2 separate regions of the Homo sapiens genome follow, and region 2 is linked to region 1. Evidence: fine-mapped expression QTL. A gene starts in region 1. The other region holds a variant in brackets. All regions are shown on one strand. Distances are from middle to middle.

What was found. PIP is the estimated chance that this variant, and not a neighbour inherited with it, causes the effect.
Region 2: its variant is fine-mapped to the expression of SUDS3 in regulatory T cells (Bossini-Castillo 2019, PIP 0.95).

The regions. Positions count from the first base shown.
Region 1 is chr12:118,371,550-118,380,079 of GRCh38, reverse strand. It overlaps SUDS3 (SIN3A corepressor complex component SDS3), which reads right to left and starts at 3,525. Exons shown (of 12, transcript NM_022491.3): 1 at 3,247-3,525. The coding sequence starts at 3,388. TAOK3 (TAO kinase 3) reads left to right here and starts at 7,173. Exons shown (of 21, transcript NM_016281.4): 1 at 7,173-7,432. It overlaps LOC124903031 (a long non-coding RNA gene), which reads left to right and starts at 3,953. Exons shown (of 2, transcript XR_007063480.1): 1 at 3,953-4,124; 2 at 4,289-4,782. RefSeq lists silencers at 3,129-3,278, 3,309-3,528, 7,050-7,299, 8,084-8,143, 8,244-8,333 and enhancers at 2,970-3,470, 6,680-6,729.
Region 2 is chr12:118,312,879-118,321,408 of GRCh38, reverse strand. The region is part of intron 1 of TAOK3 (TAO kinase 3); the gene reads left to right. Among named protein-coding and RNA genes, the nearest start is that of TAOK3, 56 kb to the left of the region's middle. The variant T/AT (reference allele first, on the strand shown) is at 4,111.

The DNA of each region.
Region 1 (8,530 bases):
AAACTCCCGTAAAATCAATTTCTATTCAAGGCAGGCTTGCACAAAGCCATCAATGAAAAACATTACATACAGTTAGTAGGCCATCCCTATCTGCAAACACGAAACCTGTGGACACAAAAGGCCAATGCAAAGAATTTGAGTATCCTCAGGTTGTAGTATCCATGAAGTCCTGGAACCAGTCCCCCATAGATACCGAGGGACAGCCGTACTTCAGAAAAGAAAAGGCCATTTCCAACTTACAGTCAGATTTATGCAAAAAGCTTGCCTTTACCTGAAATGCAGCCACAGAATAGGGTGTCTCAGGCACAGGCAGTTATGGTGAAGGCTGCTACTTCTGCAGAAACAACAATGCTGGCAACTCAAGAAAGGAGATGCAGGCGTAAGACTGGACACTGCAGGCAGTCAAGCCTTACTCGCTGCTCCAGAAAAAAACTAGTATGTACATTCTCTTCTGATACATACCCAGTTGGAACCCTTCGCACATTTTACATCAGGATACACGGTTGTCCCTCAGTATCCGTGGGGGAGTGGTTACTGCACCTCCCGTGGATACCAAAATCCTCAGCTGCTCAAGTCTCTGACAAAATGGCATAGTATTTGCATATAACCTACGCACATCTTCCAGTATACTTTTCTTTTTAATGAGACACAGTCTCACTCTGTCGCCCAGGCTGGAGTGCAGTGGCACAATCTCGGCTCACTGCAACCTCCACCTCCTGGGTTCAAGCGATTCTCCTGCCTCAGCTTCCCAAATAGCTGGGATTACAGGGGTGCACCACCACACCCGGCTACTTTTTGTATTTTTAGTAGAGATGAGGTTTCGCCACGTTGGCCAGGCTGGTCTCGAACTCCTGGCCTCAAGTGAACCACCTGCTTTCGCATTCCAAAGTGCTGGGATTACAGGCATGAGCCACTGCACCAGGCCAACAGTACACTTTAAATCATCTCTAGATTACTTAGAATATCCAGGCCAGGCATGGCAGCTCATGTCTGTAATCCCAGCACTTTGGAAGGCCAAAGCAGGAGAATCACCTGAGGACAGGAGTTCCAGACCAGCCTGGCCAACGTGGTGAAACCCCATCTCTACTAAAAACACAAAAATTAGGGCCAGGTGCAGTGGCTCACGCCTGTAATCCCAGCACTTTGGGAGGCAAAGGCAGGTGGATCACCTGAGGTCGGGAGTTCGAGACCAGCCTGACCAGCATGGAGAAACCACGTCTCTACTAAAAATACAAAATTAGCTGGGGGTGGCGGCACATGCCTGTAATCCCAGCTACTCAGGAGGCTGAGGCAGGAGAATTGCTTGAACTCGGGAGGCAGAGGTTGTGGTGAGCCGAGATCGCGCCATTGCACTCCACCCTGGGCAACAAGAGTGAAACTCCATCTCAAAAAAAAATAAAATAAACAAAACAACAAATAAAACCACAAAAATTAGCCAGGCATGGTGGCAGGTGCCAGTAATCCCAACTACTCCGGAGACTGAGGCAGGAGAACTGCTTGAACCCAGGAGATGGAAGTTGCAGTGAGCTGAGATCGTGACACTGCACACCAGCCTGGGTGAGTGAGTGAGACCCCATCTTAAAAAAAAAAAAAAAAAGATTACTTACAATATCCAATAAAATGTAAATACTATGTAAGTAGTTGTTACGCTACACTGTTTAGGAATAACAAAAAAAAAGTCTGCACATGTTCAGTACAGATCCAATTTTTTTCCTGAATATTTTTGAGCTGCGCTTGGTTGAATTCACAGATGCAGAACCCACAGATACGCAGAGCCAACTGTATACAATAAAAAAGGGGAATCTGACACAAATAAATATTTTCCAAGTTACAACTAAAGGGAACAAGGAGGAGGCCAGATGATCAAACGAAAACTGTTTCAGAACATCTTAAACATTGTTCTTAGAACAAGCTAATGGCTGGGGTGTGTACAAAATTTTAATAGCCCCTATACTGGAAGGAAAAAAAAACTCAATTTTGGCTCCACAGCGCCCCCTCGTGGGTATGAGATGAAGTGCAAGTGCTTCACATTCAAAATCTCTGGTTAAGCCGTGTCTTCTGATGGAATTAAATCGAATGCAGTCCCTCAACTTTGTATGTCATGCATATGCAGCTGTCTTTTGTAAGGCTGTTGCAGATCCAATTCCCCACAAACCCTTCTCCCCTCCTTCAGTCAAGAGGCCTTCCCTGAGTTCCTGTCATGGTCAGCCACATTACTTGGCACTCGGGAAACTCAGATGAATAAAACGTAGGCCCCATTCCAAACAGCTGGTCTAGCTTTTGCTCCACGGCCCGATTTTGTCCCAGAATATTCCGCTCATATATCGGTCTCTCTTTGTTTCCTATTTCTCCTCCCTTGATCTCTCACATTTCATCACCTTCCTCCTCCTCCATCCCTCCAAAATAGCGTTCCTCACACTTGCCAAATTATAAAGCCCAGTTTGAAAAGCAAGGCTCTGAGACTCTGTGATGACAGTGCAAAGAGCGTGGGACTGAAAACACAACACCTGGGGACCATTAAGCAAATCTCTCCCTCTCTTACCTGTTTCCGGGAGGGGGGCGGGTGGGGAGAACATTTACGGAGTATTTACAGTACCAGGCCAAGTACTTTATGCGCATGTCATTTAATCCCTATACCGACCCTAGGAAGTGCCTTCTAGGGCAGGTGTGGGAATTAAACAGCTCCATTACAGTTGGGTAAATCGAGGCTGGAAAACTTAAGTTTACAAAGCTGAGTTAAGTGACAAAGCCAAATTTAAACCTGTATCTGGCTGGTTCTAGGTCCCTTTCCTTTAACCAACCTGAGTTCTCAATAGTGTACTACCTAAAGTATAGATGACTTATGCATTTCGGGGGTGGGGAGGGGCAACTTTGGACTCTGATGCTCTCACACACAAAAAAGGGGCGAACTACACTCGATGTATTCAGTAAATGAGTTTCTAATTCCTACTAGTGAGTGAGGTTCAATCAGAAACGGCTGGGAGGGAGGACGGGGTCTTAAAGGGACCCCCAGCGTGACAACATCTAAGTCCCCTCTCCCCATCACGGTCGAGTGTAACGCACCCAGGGCTTCCCCGCTACTCCAGCACGGATGGGGGTAACTTCCCCGAGCCCCGCAACTCCCGGCGGCCCCTCCACGCAGCCCCAGGCCCCGGAGGCCGCCCCGCCCCTCTCCCGAACAGCCCCACCCCCTCCCCCAGCGGTCCCACCTCCGCTCCGGGCGGCCGGGCGAGCGGCAGGACTCACCTTCGTCCGACTCGCGGCCCCGACAGCTGCGCTCGTCGTCCTCGGCGCTCTCCAGCTCTTCATCCTCCTCGGGGTAGTACTCGGGGGCCGGCGGCGCTCCAGCCTGGGCCGGGGCCGGGGCCAGCAGCCCCGCGGCACTCATGTCGCCTCTGACCGCAGCTGAGCGTGGCCCACGGACACCGCGGCCACCCGCGCTCGGTACTCGCCGTCTGCCTAGCAGTGTCCGCGGCAGCCCCCAACTCGAGGACCGGCAGCCACGGCGACCCCTTCCCCGTCTCCGCCGAGCTCCGCCCCCCGCGCCCGCGCTCGGCAACGGGGGCCTCGCGCCGCGAGCGACTTCCGGGTCGAGAGCTGCCCGACAACGGCCTGATTCCGCCATCCTTGGGGGAGTGGAGATGCCGCTGGACGCCCCCGTCGCCACAACCTCAGCCCTTTCATCGCCGTCTTAAAATCCTCAACGTATAGTGGGGGAGGGGCGGAGCCAGGTTCGCTAGAGTCAGGCAAATCTACGGGCAGGCCCAGCAGCGGTCAGGACCCCGAGGCTCGCAGGCGACTTCCGGAGACAGCCGCCAGGCGGCGCCTGGAGCTAGAACTAAAGCGGTGATCGTTAGCGACCTAGGGGCGGAGGGTTTGAAGGGCCCTTGGCAGGTGGAGGTGGTCTCTAATTTAAGCAGGGAACGACGCGACCTGCCCCCTTATTAGGTCGGAAAACCTAGACGTCCAGAGTGTGCGTGATCATGCAGCCTGGCTCCTCCTGTGACTAGTTAGAGCTTTATTAAGAGCTAAAAGACAAGGATGCTGATATTCCATCCTGGGGACAGCAAAATAGTATTTTCCCAGCCCTTAGGAATCCTTTCTGTTTGTGTAAGGTTTATTCGGTAAGATGTTCCCCCGGTTTTACAAATGAGAAACGAGCTGTCGTTTGCCTAAAAAAAAATAGTAACGTCCAGTCTGATTTTTTAGACTCCGAGACCCAGGCCCTCCGCGGTACAGCTGCCTTGAATATTAATTTTTTAAAAGGTGCTTTTGCTTAATCCAACAGCTTGCTCTGAGCTCTCAACTGAAGAAGGGGAGAATTTGCCTACCAGAAGTTATTTGGCTAAGGCCCACGTGGAAGCTTAAAAAACAGGAGAGCTGAGTATCTGCAAGAATTAATTTGTGCGATTCCCTCTGAGTAGAAAAGGAACACGGTGTTATAAGTTTTGCTGAACGAATAGATTTAAGGTGTCCCTTTAGCTAAGAGCAATGTGGTCTAGTTGTGTGTAGCGAGAAAAAAGGGTAAGGTTTTTAATGGTTTGTCCAAAGTAGCCCCACTTTTATGTTCCACCCGAGTCTCCGTAGGAAACGCAACCAGTAGTGAAAATGAACAGATGTGAAAACCAGGGTGGAACCGAATATTCCCATTCTCAGACCTTTTGTGATTAAATTTATCTCTGAATTGTTCCCTATGGACTCTTCTGAAAATGAAACGTTATTCTCATCCCACTTATTTTGACATTTATTTACTACCTTGTTTTAATTAAAATCTTGGCTCTATTTGTAAGTGATTTTTTCTCCCAACAAAACTAAAGAATTTCCAGAATGGAATGCTAAGATGTCTTTCCAGGAGTTCTGAGATCTTCTGAAGCCCCTTCTAAATAAGAATCATTCTCAGATCGCACCGTAGGTCTGCCATCTATATTTAAACTAGGATTCCAGAACTGTCTCTTGTCCAAAAGATGAAGTCATTTTCTTTCTTTGTGCTGTTGGAGAACATCTAAATTACTTGCAATCAACTATATTGAGTAACTTGCGTTCCTGTCAGTAGCAGTAATCATAGTGCAGAAAAAGCAAAGATTTTAGAAATCAAGAGTTCATTGATACAATTAATTTTTAAGTTTATTTCGTTGCTAAATGGTTTCCTTTCAAGACGCTGAGATTTTTATCCTGCTTATGTTTTACTGCTGTCTTCTTGACTGCAAACAGCATCTGTTAATGGTCATGCATTTCTTTTTTATATGTAATGAATAGACACAACTGAGCACTTGGGTTATGAAAACTTACCCCATTTTTTTCTGTCCAGATTGCCAGCTGCAGAACTAAAAAATGCTCTTTAGTGAAGGTGGACCTACTCAAAAAAATTCTCTTATGGCTTTAGTCTTACCTAACCTTTAGATTTATTTAATATGATTTTGGACAGTCGCTATACTCCTGTAAAAATCAAGTTCCCTCAAAACCAAGTTTTACCACCTTGAAATCTTTTTATATATCCCTTCTCAAAACGGTACTCAGCCACACCGCTCAGGAACTCGACTTGACTTGAAACGAAGCCCTGCCAGCCCCATTTCCACAACTTCTTTGCTTCCAGGCCTTCTCTGCCTACCCTAACACCCAAACTGAAACTTTAAAGGGGGACATCACAATTGGAATGGAGTATGATTCTTTTTTTTCTTTTTCTTTTTTTCTTTTTTTGAGACGGAGTTTTGCTCTTTCACCCAGGCTGGAGTGAAGTGATGCGATCTCGACTCACTGCAACCTCCGCCTCCGGGTTCAAGTGATTCTCCTGCCTCAGCCTTTCTAGTAGCTGGGATTACAGGTGGGTGCCACCATGCCCGGCTAATTTTTGTATTTTTCGTACAGACGGGATTTCACCATGTTGGCCAGGCAGGTCTGGAACCCTTGACCTCAGGTGATGAATGGCGTATGATTCTTAAAACACTAGAAGAAACATGTATACTGTTTAGAACACAAACACATTTTGTCAGCTGGAGTTAAAAAGTTAACAATCGAGGGTTCTCTGAGAACTAAGGCCTGTATACATCTGACAAAACTTAGGATCAAAATGTGTTCCTGAGACAATTTCTTCATAAAATGCTAAATTCTAAAGTCCATAAACTTACTTTTGGCGTTAAGAGTAAGGAAAGCAGTTTTCTGTTTCCGGTGTTGATTTGATCAGCATATCCAGTTTCACAAAAATAACACAAATGGGTCTTAGTAGCATGATGCACTTTCACCCCTGGCAGGCACTATCCTTTAGCGTGGATCAAGAGGAGTCTCTGATTATCACATGTTAAACCTGGGTCAAAGCTCGTTATCCTTTGGCCACACGTTCACATAGAATCATTAAAACCTGTGGCCCTGGAAAAAGGTTATATTGAATAGCTTTGCTGAAACCTTGTTAAGCTAATAATAGGGTTCCCCTACCACAGTCTTCCTACTGTCATAAAAACCTACAAACTGAAAATTTCTAAAGCTTTGTCCTTGCACCTATCAAAATGTGCCCCGCATTGAACGCTTAGTTGGGCAAAGTATGCACCTAGTACTGTATATAGATTTTTTTTCCCCCAACGGTATCAAACTGACGGCTGCTGAACTCAATTCAAGGAGAGGCAACTCCCTTGCAAGAGATTTTAAAAAGAAATGGTTTAAATCCAGGAAATTTTTACAAATCCTGGGCAAATTAATGCTATATTAGTTCATGGCAGAATTACTAAGAAAGCTGTGCAAGGTCTAGCGAGAGACTGGGGTCCTCCCCAAAGGCTCTAACATGGTGGTCCCTGGGAATCTCCCAAGAAAAGTAAAGGCGTGGGGAGAAGCGCCATGAACTTTGACCGGAGAGCAGCACAAACAAGACTGACCGCACCCCAGGCGGGCCCGTAGGTTACTAAAGTTGCAAGGTCTTCCGCGTCTGAGGAGACCCCGCCCTGCCCTGTCCCGCCCATCGACAACTCCGCCAATCCTCGGGTTCCATCGACCGCTCGGCTTCCCAGGCTCCATCAATCAAATACCTATATACGGCCCCGGCCCTGTGCCCCGCGATCAGGGAAGGTCAGTAGAGAGCCTATTGGAGCCGAGCTTGGGGCGTGGTCCGGGGCAGGGGGCGGGCGGACTGAGACGGTGGGGCGGGGCGTGCTCGGCGCAGTCCGGTGCGATTGGCCACCCCTGGCAGGAGCCGCACCTCGGACAGCAGCAGCGGCGGCGGCCGCGGGAGGGTCCTTGTGGCGCCGGGCGGCGGGGTCCTGCGTGGAGAGTGGGACGCAACGCCGAGACCGCGAGCAGAGGCTGCGCACAGCCGGATCCGGCACTCAGCGACCGGACCCAAGGATCCGCCGGGGAACAAGCCACAGGAGAGCGACTCAGGAACAAGTGTGGGAGAGGAAGCGGCGGCGGCGGCGCCGGGCCCGGGGGTGGTGACAGCAGGTCTGAGGTGAGAGCACCGGGGCGCGGGGCATGACAGTGGGAGCCGAGGCGGCGGGACCCCAGGCAGAGTGAGGGGAGTTGCGGGAGCGGGCTCGACAGTGCAGACTGTGGAGAGGAGACCCCGGGAGGGACCGGGACAGCGGGTGAGGAGAGGGGACTCCGAGAGGGACCGAGGCAGTGGCTCTGAGTGGAGAGGACTCCGAGAGGGTCCAAGACTGAAAGTCTGAGGGGAGGGGTCTCCAAGAGGGGCCGGGACAGTGCGCGTGAGAGGAAGGGACCCGGAGAGGGGCTGGGGTAGTGGGGTGAGGGGTGGGTGCCTCATGAGGCACTAGGATAGGGGGATGAGGGGAGGGGGTCCCCTGAAGGACCAGGTCCCAGAAAAGGTCAGGGACAGCGGGGAGAGGGGAAGGGTCCCCGAGAGGGGCCGGCACTGAGAGTCTGAGAGATGGGGACCCCGAGAGGGGCTGGGACAGCACCCGGGGAGAGGAGACCCCGAGGTGAGGGGAGGGGACCCAGAGAGAATCCAGGACAGAGTAAAGAGAGGGGACCGGTCAGGGGATGTGAAGACAGGGGATCCCCAGAGGGCTTAGAACAGAGTGTGAGAAGACCCCAGGAAGGGCCAAGACAGTGGGAGAAGAGGAGGGGTCCCGGAAGGGGGCTGGGCTGAGACAGCGGGGCTGAGAGCAGGACACCTAGAGAGAGGCCGGGACAGCGGGTGGGAGCAGGGTGACCCCGAGAGGGGCCAGGACAGCGGGGTGAGAGGAGGGGACCCCCAGAGGGCTCGGGACAGCGCATGCGAGCGTGGGACTCCGAGAGGGGCTTTGAGCGTCGGGTGCAGGCGCGGACCCCGAGGGAGGAGCGGTGCCCCATGGGTGCGGGTCGGGCCCCCAGTCACATAGCGGGGGCCCGGCGTGAGCAGCGAGGGAGCGGGCGGGGGGTCGCGCCCGCTGAGTTGCGGGAGCCCCCCCAAGAACGGCTGCGGCGGGGAGCCTGGGTCGCAGTCGCGGCGTCGGGCAAATAGGAACCGGCTGCAGCGCAGACGAGTGGAGCGGGGAGGTGCTCCCAGGGTCTGGCATCAGCGACCTCCCTGAGGGTGGAGTGTGAG
Region 2 (8,530 bases), 59 kb after region 1:
TGCACCAGTAGCCCCAGCTTCTTAGAGGGCTGAGGTGGGAGGATAGCTTGAGCCTGGCAGGTCGAGGTTGCAGTGAGCCGTGATTGTGCCACTGCACTCCAGCTTCGGCGACAGAGTGAGACCCTGTCTGAAAAAAAATGTGTGTGTGTATGTTTGTGTGTGTGTGTGTGTATTTGCATGTATACATGTTAAACAACAGTGTTAAACAATATAGTAATATACAACTTAGAAAATAGATGCCCCCAAACAAATATAAAAGTTACAAACCATACCAACCTTTTCCCTAACATATAGCCACTATAAGCAGTTTGGGCATATTCTTCTAGATTTTTTCCATGATCTTTTTTAATGTTGTTTATATTATTAACATTATTTTAAAATGTAACACATTATGCATATACGTATGCACATTACGTGTTACTTAACAGTACTTTAGTAGGACTTCCTTCCTATAGATCTGCTTCTTGTTATATTAGCTACACATTAGTAAAGTGTGTAATTGTACCAATTCCTTTTTGATGGGCATTTGGGTTGTTTCCAAATGTTTTCTATTACAAACCATGCTGTAATTATCATTATAAATAGCAGTGTGATTCATTTTCAATTATTCTACTCTGACTCTAAAATATTCAGCTTGGGGACCCTCTTTTTTCACAAACTTCTAGCAGTGTAAAGTCTCTTTTAGTTTAAACAGCATTGTTTAAGCAGTTGTATAAAGCAGTGTGCTAACTGGAAGTCCTTTTTGTTTTTTGTTTCTTTAATAATAAAATAGCCCTGGTCTCAATAGCTTATAGTCTAGTGTGACTGGCCAGTATGTGTCCAATCAATCATAACTATTACTAATTATTTTGTTTGTAAAATGTTAGCAGTGGCTATAAACTGATACACTTATTTGCCTTGGGCTTTCAGCAGATTACCCAGAGATGTGTTGATAATCAAGTATATTATTGTTCAGTATCTTATTATATACTTTTTTTTTTTAAGAAATGATGTCTTGCTACGTTGTCCAGGCTTGTCTCAAATACCTGGGGCTCAAGCGATCCTCCCAACTCAGCCTCCCAAAGTGCTAGAGTTACAGGCAAGAGCCACCATACCCGGCTACTCGTAGAAACTTGTCATAAGGAAATAATTATGGGAACATCACTATCTATTTCCAGAACTTTTTCATCATCCCAAGCAGAAATTCTGTACCTATTAAGCACTTACTCCCCATTTCCCCCTCTCTGCCTAGGCCCTTATCTATTTTTCTGTCTGTATGAATTTTGCCTATTCTAAATATTTCATACAAGTGGAATCATATAATATTTGTCCTTTTTTGTCTGGCTTTTTTCACTTAGCACAATGGTTCATCCATGCTGTAACATCTATCAGTACTTCATTCCTTTTTATGGCTAAGTAATATTTTGCTGTATCTATATCCCACATTTTGTTCATCTGTGTATCTGTCTGCTGATGGACACTTCACGTTGTTTCCACCTTTTGGCTATTGTGAATAATGCTGGTATGAACATTGGCATACAAGTATCTGTTTGAGTCCCTCTTTTCAATTCTTTGGGGTATATAACTGGGAGTAGAGTTGCTGAGTCATGGTAATTCTATGTATAACTTTTTGAGGAGCTGTTCAACTGTTTTCCATAGAGGCTGCATCATTTTATATTCCCACCAGCAGTGTGCGAAAGGGTTCCAGTGTCTTCACATCCTCACCAACACTTGTTGTTTTCTGGTTTTTTTTTAATTATAATCATCTTAATGAGTATAAAATAATATCTCATCGTGGTTTTGCATTTCCCTAATAATTAATGATAAGCATTTTTTCATGTGTTTATTGGCCATTTGTACATCTTCTTTGAGTAAATGGCTATTCAAGTCCTTGACAATATTAAGTTTTCTAGTTCTCATTTCAAAATTGGGTCGTTTGTCTTTTTGTTGTTAAGTTATAGCAGTTCTTTATATGTTGTAGATTATTATCAGGTTTCTAATAAAACAATTTTAGATTATCTAAATTCTTATCAGGTTTATGATTTGCAAATATTTTCTCTGTCACTCTTGATAGCGTCCTTTGATACACATAAGTTCTGAATTTTAGTAAAGTCCAATTTATTTTTCTTTTGTTTCCTGTAAAAGCTTTTGGTGTCATTTTATTGTTGAGGGGTTTTTTGCTTTTAAAATATTTATTTTATAATTGACAAATGAAAAATTATATTTATGGTATACAATGTGATGTTTTGATATATGCATACATTGTAGAATGAATACATCAAGCTAGATAACATATCCATCACCAGATTTCAGCTGATAATTTGTATCTTCTGACCAATATTTCTCCAATTCCTCACCTCTCCAGCCCCTGGAAAGCACCATTGTATTCTCTGCTTCTGAGTTCTGTTTTTTTTCAGATACCACACATAAATGAGATCATACAACTTCTGTCTTTCTGTGCCTGCCTTATTTCATTGAGTGTAATGTTCTCTATGTTCATCCATGTTGTTGCAAATGACAGGATTTCCTTCTTTTTGAAGGCTGAATAGTATTCCATTGTGTACACATGCCACATTTTCCATTCACCCACTGACGGACACTTGGGTTGATTCCTTATCTTAGCTGTTGTGAATAATGTTGCAATGAACATGAAAAGTACATATCTCTTTCACATATTCATTTCATTTCCTTTGGATGTGTATCATTAGTGGGATTGCCAGGTCATATCGTAGTTCTAATTTTAATTTTTTGAGAAACCTCCATACTGCTTTCCATAATCACTGTGCTAATTTACATTCCCACTAACAGTGTACAAGGGTTCCCTTTTCTCTACATGCTCACCAACACTCAGTCTTTTGTCTTTTTGCTAAAAACTATTCTTACAGGTGTGAGGTGGTAGCTCCTTGTGGTTTTAATTAAGAAATCATTGCCAAATCCATGGTCATGCAGATTTGTCCCTATATTTAAGAGTTGTGGCCAGGCGCAGCGGCTCACACCTGTAATCCCAGCACTTTGGGAGGCTGAGGCAGGCAGATCACGAGGTCTAGAAATCGAGACCATCCTGGCCAACATGGTGAAACCCTGTCTTTACTAAAAATACAAAAATTAGCTGGGCGTGGTGGTGCGTTCCTGTAGTCCCAGCTACTTGGGAGGCTAAGGCAGGAGAATCGCTTGAACCCAGGAGGCGGAGGTTGCAGTGAGCCAAGATCGCGTCATTGCGCTCCAGCCTGGTGACAGAGCAAGACTCCATCTAAAAAAAAAAAAAAAAAAAGTTTTATAGCTTTATATCTTATTTAGGTCTCGGATCTATTCTGAGTTATTGTTTGTATATAGTATAAAGTAAGGGCCCAACTTCATTTTTTTGGCCTATGGATATCCAGTTATCCCAGTACCATTTGGTGAAAAGACTGACCTTTCCCTGTTGTCTTGGCACCCTTGTTGAAAATCAATTTGCTGTAGATATGAATGTTTATTTCTGGGCTGTCAGTTCTATTCCATTGGTCTATATATGTCTGTCCTTAGGCCAGTACTGCAGTGTTTTGATTACTGAGCTTTGTAATAAGCTGCAGGAAATGTGAGTCCTCCAACTGGTTTTTGTTTTTTTTGTTTGTTTGTCTTTTTTAGATTATTTTTGCTATTCTGGGTCCTTTGAAATCATATGGATTTTAGGACAGGTTTTTCCATTTCTGTACAAAACACCATTGGGATTTTGATACAAATTGTATTGGATCTGTATATTGTTTGGAGTCATATTGTCACCTTGACAATATTAAGTTTTCTAGCTCCTGAACACATAATGTCTTTCTATTTATTTAGGTCTTTAAAAATTTCTGGCTGGGTGCAGTAATCCCACACCTGTAATCCTAGCACTTTGGGAGGCCGAGGCAGGTGGATCACGAGGTCAGGAGATCGAGACCATCCTGGCTAACACGGTGAAACCCGTCTCTACTAAAAATACAAAAAATTAGCTTGGCGTGGTGGCAGGCGCCTGTAGTCCCAGCTACTCTGGAGGCTGAGGCAGGAGAATGGCGTGAACCCAGAAGGCGGAGCTTGTAGTGAGCCAAGATCGCGCCACTGCACTCCAGCCTGGGCAACAGAGCAAGACTGTCTAAAAAAAAAAAAAAAAAAAAA[T/AT]TCTCCCAGCGATTTTTTTTTTTTTTTTTTTTTGAGACAAACTTTCACTTCGTTGCCCAGGCCAGAGTGTAGTGGCACAATAATCTCGGCTCACTGCAACTTCTGCCTCACAGTTTCGAGCAATTCTCCTGCCTCAGCCTCCCAAGTAGCTGGAGTTACAGGCGTGCACCACCACACCCAGCTAATTTTTGTATTTTTAATAGAGACGGGGCTTCGCCATGTTGGCCAGGCTGGTCTCGAACTCCTGAGCTCAAGCAATCCACCCACCTTGGCCTCCCAAATGCTGAGATTACAGGCGTGAGCCACCGTGCCCAGCCCCAGCAATGTTTTGTAGTTTTCATTGTTCATGTTTTTATGCTTCCTTGGTTAAATTTATTCCAAGGAGGAATAATTGAAGTATTCTTTTTGCTCTTATTATAGATTGTTTTCTTAATTTCCTTTTCAGATTGTTCATTGCCAGTATATAGAAATACAACTGATTTTGTTATTTTTATACCCTGGAACTTTGCTAAATTTATTTAATAGCTCTAGTAGTTTGTAGATGTGAGTTATTTAGGGTTTTCTGGATATAAGATCATGTCATTGGCCAGCCACGATGGCTCATGCCTGTAATCCTGGCACTTTGGGAGGCCGAACCAGGAGGATTGCTTGAGCCAGAAGTTCAAGACCAGCCTGGACAAAATTGTAAGAGCTTGTCTTTATTAACAATCAAAAAAAAAAAGAGAGAGAATCTAGCCAGGCAGGGTGGTACACGACTGTGTTCCCAGCTACTCAGGAGGCTGAGGGTAGGATGCTGCAGTGATCCGAGATTGCACAACTGCACTCCAGCCTGGATGACAGAGCGAGACCCCACCTCTAAGAGAGAGTAAAAAAAAAATGATGTCCTTGAGGCAAAATATTTTTTTACCATCCTATCTTTTATGAATCAGACCAAAGAAAATAATGTATGCCAAATGAGTAGGAGCTCTTTCAGTAGGACAGTATGTAAGCTAGTATATTTAACCAGACTCTTATGAGTAGCAGGTATGCTGCAGTTAAAGGGAAGTTAAAAGGTAAGATTTACATTAACAAATCCATGATCATTAGGCCATTTTTTAGATTCCTTTTCTTGAACATTTTTAAACCAGACACTGCACATAAATTTATTTAAGAAGGCAGAAACACCCATTATTAGGAATAAATTGAAGGGAGATGTAAGAAATCAAATAATTAGAGGCAGTCTCTAAGTCACATGTGCATGATGTCTCATTACATTCCCCTTGGGATCTTGGCATCAGTACCTCCTAATAACCTCCCTACTCCTTTTTCCATTGTAAAAATATCCCAGCAGCAACCAAGCTGTCTTGAGTCCATACCATTACCTCACAGTGAGCCTGGAAAACTATCTGATCCAAAATTCACAGTCTCCTTTATTTACTATCTGTTTCAATTTTCCTTTGTCATTTATACTTGCATTTGCCTCCTTTTACCCTAACCAATTTTTTTCTCTCATGTGCATATATGTATTCCCTCTTTCCCAACACTGTCATAATTACTTCAAATAATTATTCAATCCTATCACTTTCATTTTTAGATTTTCCTTTTTGGGGGGAGGAGGATTATTTTCTTTTTAAAAATGTTAACAAAATATTTCAAACTTGCAGAATATAACCAATATCCATGATCCTATCTCTCAGAATTAATTTTTTAAAGAAATAAAAACATATATTTGGAGTCTCCTTTGTACTTCTTTCCAATTCCATTCTTTTCCATCCACCCCAAATCCATCTACTCTCCTGAAGGTGGTGCATATTATTCTTTTTACCATTTGTACTCTTATTTATGTGTGCTACAAACAATACATTTTTGTGGGTTTTAACATTTGCATAAATTTGAATATATCCTGCATATGATTCTTCAACTTGGTTTTTCCTTTATTGTGTTTTGGAAATGTGTCTATATTGATAAATTTATATTTAGCTCATTGATTTAAACTACAACATGGCATTACATCACATGATTATATCAGTTATCCTTTTCCCCACCGATGGATGTTTAATACATTACTCATTTTTTACCATTATGAAAAATTTTCTGCTGGGTGTGGTGGCTCACGCCTGTAATCCCAGCACTTTGGGAGTCCAAGGCGGGCAGATCACTTGAGGTCAGGAGTTCACCATGACCAACATGGTGAAACCCCATCTCTACTAAAAGTATAAAAGTTAGCCAGGGGTGGTGGCACATGCCTGTAATCCCAGCTAGTCGGGAGGCTGAGACAGGAGAATTGCTTGTATGTGGGAGGCGGAGGTTGCAGCCAGCTTAGATCTTGCCACTGCACGCACTCACTCCAGCCGGGGCCATAGAGTGAGACTACATCTTAAAAAAAAAAAAGAAAAAGAAAAAGAAACAAAAACTCCTTCATGTGCCCATGCAATAGTCATGCGCATCTTCAACTTCACTAGATAGTGCTAAATTATGCTGATAAAATGGTTGTAGTAATTTTTTTCACCTTATTCTGAGCAAAAACCTGGTCTTGATAATAATTGATAAGCATTGTTATGGTGGAAAAGATACAGGATGGGATATCAGCTCCGGAACTAATTAGTTGGATAACTTATGTCAGGTTAGTCCATCCATATGAGTCTCAATTTCTCCATCTCCAAATTAAGGTCAGATTGAATATGATCTCTGAAGTCTTTTCCAACCTTGGATGTTCTGTGGTTTTAGTGCTAATGATTTATTGTATTTCAAGAGAAATAAGAGTCATACATTTTAAAATCACATTAGATCTAATAAAGAACTAATGTCACTAGTTCCCAAAATCCTCAAGTAATCCAAAAGTTAAGTTCAGGATATCCTCAAGTCTCCATTTACCATGTCATTTTTATGCACTCCATCTTAATTCACGATATTGTTTTAGAGTTATTACTCAATATTTTTTGATTTGCATAATTAGTTGTATCTCAATAGTATTTTTAAAAGATATTTTAAAATGCAAAATAAGATATTGAATTTGCTTTAGGGACAAACCCTTTGTGGACAAACCTGAAAACCTAAATTCCATATGAAACATTGATTTTGGGTAAAAACATATTCAGAGTTACAGATACTTAGCTTAGAAGTGAACTTTTGGGACCCAACTCTTTTGCAAGTTGGAGGCTTCCTGTAACGTTAATTTCAGGAAATCCTAGGCAAATATGCAGTTACTGTTCTAGAAGATACATAGGTAGTGTGTACTGTGATGGAAATTAAAATGTCACTGTTAAAAGGTTTGCATTTTGTGGGCTTGGAAGGGCCTAAAACTTCCTTCTTAGGCTTTCTCTTCACTAGTGGGCTCTTGCATTATATTACTTCCAGAGAAAGGCAGGCAGGATTAGAGGCATGGCAAGGAGAACAATTTGAGAAATACTATACTGTGCAAAAGAGCAAAGACAACTTTAATGGCAATGAGGATAAATTAACTTCTTTGACTCAGTCGCCAAGTAAGATAAATCCATAATTACTTATTCCAGTTTGATTTTTACATAAGAAGTTCTTCTGGTTATTCTTTAATATAGATTTGATTTTCTTTTCCCTAAATTTTAGCCTTAGATTACTGGACAGTTTAGTCATTTCTGTAATGTAAAAGCTTACTATTCAAGTGTCTGATACAACCTTACCATGAGGTTACTTTTGACAAAATAAAACCCTTTTAAATATTAGAGGGTCCCAGTCTTAGTTGAAGTTATAAGAAACAGCCTTTCTCAGCCTATGCGGTGGCTACGCCTGTAATCTTAGCATTTTGGGAGGCTGAAACAGGTGGATCACCTGAGGTCAGGAGTTTGAGACCAGCCTGGCCAATGTGGTGAAACCTCATTTCTACTAAAAATACAAAAATTAGCCAAGTGTGGTGGCAGATGCCTGTAATCCCAGCTACTTGGGAGGCTGAGGCAGGAGAATCACTTGAACCCAGGAGGCGGAGGTTGCAGTGAGCCAAGATCATGCCATTGCACTCCAGCCTGGACAACAGAGCAAAAACTCGGTCTCAAAAAAAAAGATAAAATAAAATAAAAAATAAAAAAGAAGAGAAAAGAAAAGAAACAGCCATTCTCTTTCCTTGTAATAGAGCTGAAAATGTCTGTCTTCTGTAATGTCTTGCCTGACTGTCCTACTAGGATCTAGCATTATCTCTAGTTGGATAGCTGTCTCTTTATATATGATTTTTAAATTTTCAGTTTTTAAAGATTTCATTTTGTTTGCTTTTAACTCTTTTAAAATAGCTATTTAGCCTCTTTTCTGCATTTTTCCGTCTTTAGTGTTAGGGATTTTGGGTTCAGTTTTATTTTCACTCCAGATTTTAATACAGGGCTCAGCAGAATAGAGCCTCACCAGCAGATAAGCATTTTTGATTGATGGAATTCACATCTGTTATGTTTCCCCAAATTTATTTTTTTCTCCACAG